2 linked regions of the Homo sapiens genome follow. The protein of the gene in region 1 interacts with the protein of each later gene in a pairwise test. Each region holds a gene or a part of one and is shown in the gene's direction. Other genes may lie near its edges.

Region 1 (4,329 bases):
CTCCCTCTTATCTCGCAGAATGCCTGTCCCTGGATAAAGATCATTAGTTTGAGTTTTTCCAAGATGATTCTAGGAAGCTCCTGCTGGTAACTAAGTCACCCATCCTGGGGTGGGATCCAGAGATTTAGATTTTTTATAAGCTTTCCTGCCACCGAAACGGGTGTTTGGGACCTCACGAGGCCCTGTTCATTCTTCGTCGCTGCGCTCCCCACTCTGTACTGGATGCATTTACTGACGTTGTTGTCTCCGTCCCCAGAGTATGAACCCCCAAGGTGACTCATGCAGCTGTGGGTGCCCGGCATACAGCATGGTGACTGGAATGGATGAGCACCCAATAAACATTTGTTGCAGGAATGCAGGAGGACGGGCAGGCCAGCAAGCAGGCTGCCTGGTTTTTCCCACATGGGCTTTTCTGGGAAAGAAGAGCTTCTATTTTTGGAAAGGGCTGCTATGATTGAGAAAAGTTCATGGCAGCAAAAAAAGGACAGACGTCGGGAGGGAAACACTCCTAGTTCTCCCAGACAACACATTTTTTAAAAAGACTCCTTCATCTCTTTAATAATAACGGTAACGACAATGACAATGATGATTACTTATGAGTGCGGCTAGTGCCAGCCACTGTGTTGTCACTGGGCGAGTAATGATCTCATTGGATCTTCACGGTGGGCGTGCGGGGTGGACAGCCTCACACCCCCATTTTACAGATGATGAAAAGGAGGTGCAGGGAGTGGTGCAGCTGCTTCAGGCGTACACAGATAGGAAGTGACAAGGCTGGGACTCTGCAGCCTGAGTGTGTCATCACGACCCACCCGCTGCTCTGCTCTCATAGGTATGACAGCACAGCTCTGGAGCAAATGCCACGCACATTTGCAAGGTGCCCATTTCCATGCAGCAAAAATAAGTCAATAAGTTATTGACTTACAGAAAAGCAAAGGGCCTCTCAATAAAGAGGTCATTGTACACCTCTCCAAACAGGCGATTTTCTTTCTCATTTTTATTCCCCTGCTGTGTGCTGAAGGTCACTGGCTACAAGCCGGTGAAGTCGCGGAATGGAATCCTTGGCCCGAAAACCCAAAAATGGGAGGGGCAGAGGAGGTGGGGACAGAGCGGGAGGAGGTGGAGGCGAAGCAATTCTACAACCCGGGGAGGTCTGGCCTGCTTTTCCTCCCTGAACTGGCCCAATGACTGGCTCCCTCACGCTGACCACTCCTCTGGGCTGGCCTCCTGCACTCGCGCTAACAGCCCAGGCTCCAGGGACAGCCTGCGTTCCTGGGCTGGCTGGGTGCAGCTCTCTTTTCAGGAGAGAAAGCTCTCTTGGAGGAGCTGGAAAGGTGGGTGCTAAGTTGAGGTTCATTTTGTTCTTCTCGGAGTGTGCTTATTGAGTCTGAAGCTGGGTTGGGGCAACGGGCCTCTTCTTGGGAACAAATTGGATCATCTTCTTGGGAAGGAAATGTACTTTCCCTGGCTGCTCTGAGGGGTTAGTGGGGAGGTGGAGTGAGCGGGGAGGAAGGCAAGGAGGGGAGGAAGAAACCGTTCCTCCTGTGGATCTGCAAAGACCAGTCCAAGAGGATTTTAGTGTTAGGAAAAGGAATCTGGAGTGACGAGAAAGGGGGCCTTTCTAGATGTTGCATGGCTTTGGTGTCGGGAGCCACTTATGGGACAGCAGGTACTCTAAAAAGCCACCTCCTTAGGAAAGCAGAGAGGCCCTGGCCAGCTCAGGCTCCCAGCAAGAGCTCCTTCTAGGAGACAGCTGAGGGATGAAACACACCCAAGGCTCAAGAGGGGCAGGTTCTTCCCAGATACAGACCCAGGAAGGAGATAAAGGCTTGGTGCCTCTATTTGGTTCAGGATAAGGGCCCCTGTCCTCTTTCTCTGATAACACTGTCCTCTTTCTCTGATAACACCGTCCTCCCTTCCAGATCCACGTACAAAGGAGGCCCTTAAAAAGGCACTTGGTCATTCACAGCTCAAACTGAGCAAGAGGCTGTGGGAGAAGAATCAAGTTGGTCCCGAGGGGAAGAGGTGTCAAAGGCTTAAGAAACAAGAAGTCAGAGTTTACCTGGGTTTGAGGGAGAATTTTCTTTCCCCCTTTTCCTCCTCCTCCTCCTTCTTCTCTTTTTTTTTTTTTTTTTTTTTTTTTTGAGACATGGTCTCATTCTGTCACCCAGCACCCAGGCTGGAATGTAGTGGCACGATCACTATCACGGCTCACTACAGCCTCTACCTCCCGGGCTCAAGCGATCCTCCTACCTCAACCTCCTGAGTAACTGGGACTACAGGCACATGCCACCACACCCAGCTATTTTTTTTTTTTTTTTTTGCTAGAGATGGGGGTCTCTACCAGGTTGGTCTCATACTCTTGTACTCAAATGATTCTCCTGTCTCATCCTCCCAAAGGGGTGGGATTACAGGCATAAGCCACCATGCCTGGCTCTTCTTTTGGTTTCAGAGAAAAACATCTCCTTAAAATGTTTATTTCCCAAGGATTCTTGAAAAAGAAAGCTCACTGACACACCCAAAACAATCTGGTTTTGCTCTGTGCTTTTAGGGAGAACTTTCTAAGCAGCAGAGCCCTTCTGAGTGGCAGGGCTGTCTTAGGAGGAAGGTGTCTTTGATGATGGGGAACTTCATGTCCAGGTCTGGCAGGAGAGTTACCCCACTTTCCTGCCTACTCCCTGGGGCTTTGGGGTAGTAGTACCACATTGGGCCATGTCATTTAGGTGAGTCCTTCAACATCACTTTCTCTGCTTCTCCCTCTTTCTGGATCCTCCTTCTTGGAGCCTTTCAAGGGGACCTCCTCTCACAGTGTCCATAGCATCTCTTAGCTAATGGTCCTTAAAATCTCTACCAGCAGCTCTCTCTGATAGCTAAGAGCTGCCATTTACTGGGAACTTTCTATGTACTGGGCTCTGTGCTAAGTGCCCTAGATGAGAGATGTGCAGTGTGGTGCCTAAACCTTGGGCTTGGAGCAGACACACACTTTCAAATCCTGCCTTCAGCTCCTTAGTGAACATGTCACCTTGGGCGGGACACACGCCTCTCTGTGCCTCAGTTTCCTACACTTTAGAATGGGGATAACACTGAATAATGTTCTTGTGAGGATGCAGGGAATTAACCCACGCACAGTACTTATAATAGTGTCTGGCGCCTGTGTTCGATAAGTTTTAGCAATTCTAATCATCTCTTTTAAGCCTCGCAGCAAGCCTCTAAGGTAAGTCTGTATTAGTATCCCTATTTACAGATGAGAAAACTGAGGTTCACAGGGGATGAGACAGTGTACAGTCTGCAGTCCAGCAATTACTCTGCTACTCAGCAATAAAAATAGTAACAGCTAACCCTTAGACTAAGTGGCAGAGTCAGGCTTTAGATTCATGAGGTGAGTTCTGGAATCCATCCCTTTAATAACCACACTAAATTGCCTTTCTGAAATGGTTATATAAAGCATATCTACCCAATCTTGGAGTTTTTTAAATGGCACCTAGTTTGGTGCTGGAAATGCAGTTGACCTTCAAAGCAATTCTTTGGAGGCAGCATCAATCCCTCTGGAAATACCTCGGTGGCATGGCTGGCCTTATTCTACAGGTAAGGAACTTGAAGCTAAGCATCAGTAACCCCGTGAAGTCACAGTTAGTATAGGTTGGAATTGGGATTCAAATCTGTACCTGACTTTATAATTCCTAGCTGGGCCCCAGAATCTTTGATAGAGGTGTCTTCTTTCTTTTCTTTTCTTTCTTTCCTCTTTCTTTCCCTTCCTTCCTCTCTCTCTGTCTTTCTTCTCTCCTTTCTTTCTCACAGAATCAAAATCTCTTGGGGTGGGGCCTGGGCATCTGATTTTTAAAAACCAGACATCTGATGTGCAGTCAACACTGAGAACCCCTGCCAGCTTCATCTCCTCTTCTAAGTGCCAGACCCAAGTTTCCGACTGTCTGCCCACCTGTCTTCCCACCTGGGCACCCGCCAGCGTCTCACCCTCAGGAGACTCCAGCTGAACTAATCCTCTCTCCCTGCTTTTCCAGAACAGGTCCCACCCTCCCTCCACTCAGTCTCTCCTGCTGGGAACCCTGGTCATCTGCACTGTGCCTTCATCTTCCATCCTGCCAGTGCTGCCCGGTGTGTCTCTTAAACCCATGCCTCCTCTGTGTGCACCACCTGCACTTTGGTAAAAGCCTTCATTTCCTGCTTGGGTTACTACAACGCCCCCTAACTCATCTCACTGTCTCTATTTCTGCTTCTCTGTCTCTCCCTAGGCTACTCCCATTCTTCCTCCCCTTTCCTCTTCATCCCAAAGTCCAACCCATATCCTTTTACCAGTAGGACTTAAGGAACTAA
Region 2 (3,087 bases), on another chromosome or scaffold:
TCAAAAATATATACATAATTTTTTTTAAGTAAAGAGTTCATTGATAATTGATTAGCATGTATATAAAGTAAAAGTGTGAAATGGATATAATTTCAGGCTTTAACACATATTAAGACAGATTTGGGATTATCATACCTAGTGGATTATACTATTTAAAGATAGATCATTTGTTAAGAATATGGGGTAGGCTGGGTGCAGTGGTCACAGCTGTAATTCCAGCACTTCGGGAGGCTAAGGTGGGCAGATCGCTTGAACCCAGGAGTTAAAGGCCAGCCTGGGCAACATGGTGAAACCCTGTCTCTACAAAAAAAAAAAAAAGGAAAAATTAGCTGGGCATGTGGTGTGTGCCTGTAGTCCTAGCTACTCAGAAAGTTGAAGTGGGAGGATCCCTTGAGCCCTGGGAAGTTGAGGCTGCAGTGAGCCGAGATTGTGCCACTGTACTCCAACCTGAGTGATGGGACTGAGACCCTGTATCAAAAAAAAAAAAAAAAAAAAGGTGCAAAATGGTTACCTGAAATTCTAGAAATGAAAATTTCTGTAAGTTTAACAGGAAAGTTGTTGAAAAAGAAAGTTGGTTTGTTTGACTTTTTTTTTTTTTTTTTTTTTTTTTTGAGATAGGGTTTAACTCTGTTACCCAGGCTGGAGTGCAGTGGTGTGATCTCTGCTTACTGCAACCTCCACCTCCCAGGCTCAAGCAATCCTCCTACCTCAGCCTCCTGAGTAGCTGGGACTACAGGTACACACAACCATGCCTGGCTAAATTTTGTATTTTTAGTAGAGACTGGGTTTCAGCATGTTGCCCAGGCTGGTCTCAAACTCCTGAGCTCAAGTGATCTGCCTGCCTCTGCCTCCCAAAGTGCTGGGATTGCAAGCTTGGACAACCATGCCTGGCCTGTTTTGCATTTTTGAAAGAAGAAAGTTTTAGAGTGTTAAAACCTCTCATACCTAAAGTAATAGTTTTTAGAAAACTATAGTATACATATGAATTTAGATTCCAATGTATGACTTTCTTTAAATTATATTAACAAAAATTAAGCTATTGGGTAATAGTATGTGACCCAGAATGTAAGAAAAGTGATTTTTTAAGTCTGCAGAGAAGCCAAAAGATATCATAAAAATCCATGTACTCTACGCCAGGCGCGGTGGCTTATGCCTGTAATCCCAGTACTTTGGGTGGCTGAGGCAGGTAGATCACAAGGCCAGGAGTTTGAGACCGGCCTGGCCAACATGGTGAAACTAAAAATACAAAAATTAGCTGGGTGCGGTGGCAAGCGCCTTTAGTCCCAGCCACTCAGGAGGCTGAGGCAGGAGATTCCCTTGAACCCAGGAGACAGAGGTTGCATTGAGCTGAGATCATGCAACTGCACTCCAGCCTGGGCGACAGAATGAGACTGCATCTCAAAAAAAAAAAAAAAAAAAATCCATGTACTCCAAAGGGACTCTCCAAGGCTCTCATCAAAATACTTTTCATTCTTGTTCTAATATAATTTTAATACTCTTGGCTGAGGCCGGTGGATCACTTGAGCCCAGGAGTTCCAGACTAGCCTGGGCAAATGGCAAAACCCTGTCTTTACAAAAAATACAAAATGTAGCCTGGTGTGGTGGCGTGCACCTGTGGTCCCAGCTACCTGGGAGGTTGAGGTGGGAGGATTACTTGAGGCCGGGAGGTTGAGACTGCAAGTGAGCCATGATAATACCACTACACTTGAGCCTGGCCAACAGAGCAAGATTCTGTCTCAGAAAAACAAACAAACAAACAAACAAAAAAACCTCTTCAGCAGTCTCATTTCAAAACCTGTAATTTGCAGCAAAATTAGAAAAGAAGGATTGCTATTGGCAGGTAAATTGACAAGAAGGCAAAGTGATCACAACTCATAGCCAAGAAAGAGCCAGAAAAATCTGTAATAGCCAAATAAATCAAACTCCATAGCACTATTTGGAGTAATTTAATACAGCCACTCAAAGAGGCTTTGAGGATTTTAGTAACAGTAATCTTTTTTTTCTGTTTAGTTAAGAAAAGGTTAAACTTTGGTTGTTATACCCCATTTAGGAAGCCAAGAGGAAGCTACTTTTGCAGAGACGTAAAGAAATTCACTAAAATGTTAAATGTTGGGATTATGAGTGACTTTTATTTTTCTGTCTTTTATAATTTTAAAAATACTAATATTGGATACTTTTATAATTTAGAAAAAAAAATTGATGTTTAAAAGCCTGAAAATGTGTACAGAAATGTTTCTACCAAAGCTTTAATTTAAAGGACTAAATATCATCTATATAGAAATAATATATTTAGGCTGGGCACTGTGGCTCACGCCTGTAATCCCAGCACTTTAGGAGGCCGAGGTGGGCAGATCACCTGAGGTGAAGAGTTTGAGACCAGCCTGGCCAACATGGTAAAACCCCGTCTCTACTAAAAATACAGAAATTAGCCAGGCATGGTGACAGGTGCCTGTAGTGCCAGCTACTTGGGAGGCTGAGGTAGGAGAATCGCTTGATCCTGGGAGACAGAGGTTGCAGTGAGCCAAGATCGCACCACTGCACTCCAGCCTAGGCAACGGAGTGAGAGTCGGTCTCAAAAAAAAAAAAAAGACTACATTTATATAAAAATATTAACTCCTCAATATTTGTGCGTTCCTAAAGTTTTACTAGTTATGTCTATCTGGCTCTATTTCTGTTTGTCTGTCATCTATGTCTATTTTCTAAAGATTTGTTAAAATTAATCTTGCAAAATAGTTCCACATACTTTTCACTCTTTAGCCAAGCAACTAAGAAATAGAACACTATTTGTACTAGGTGTAAAATAACAAGCAGGAAACTACCTTAAGGCTATGAAAAACTGAGACATTAATTGGATTTCTGCAGTGATTTAAAAAATAATATGTTGATACAAAATTATTTTACTTACAGATGATGAAGAACGAGAGCTTCAAATGGATCCTGCAGACTATGGAAAGCAACATTTCAATGATGTCCTTTAAGTCCTAAAGGAATGCTTCAGAAAACCTAAAGTGCTGTAAAATGAAATCATTCTACTTTGTCCTTTCTGACTTTTGTTGTAAAGACGAATTGTATCAGTTGTAAAGATAC

The links.
Region 2: the proteins of SOD3 (region 1) and GOLM2 interact in a two-hybrid assay, tested with the Homo sapiens proteins (one large-scale study listed by BioGRID).

What each region holds. Positions count from the first base shown.
Region 1 is NC_000004.12:24,794,321-24,798,649, forward strand, and holds the start of SOD3 (extracellular superoxide dismutase [Cu-Zn] preproprotein), read left to right. Parts: upstream 1-1,252; 5' UTR 1,253-1,331; intron 1,332-4,329. UniProt on the Homo sapiens protein: Protect the extracellular space from toxic effect of reactive oxygen intermediates by converting superoxide radicals into hydrogen peroxide and oxygen.
Region 2 is NC_000015.10:44,410,429-44,413,515, forward strand, and holds part of GOLM2 (protein GOLM2), read left to right. Parts: intron 1-2,907; coding exon 2,908-2,978; 3' UTR 2,979-3,087.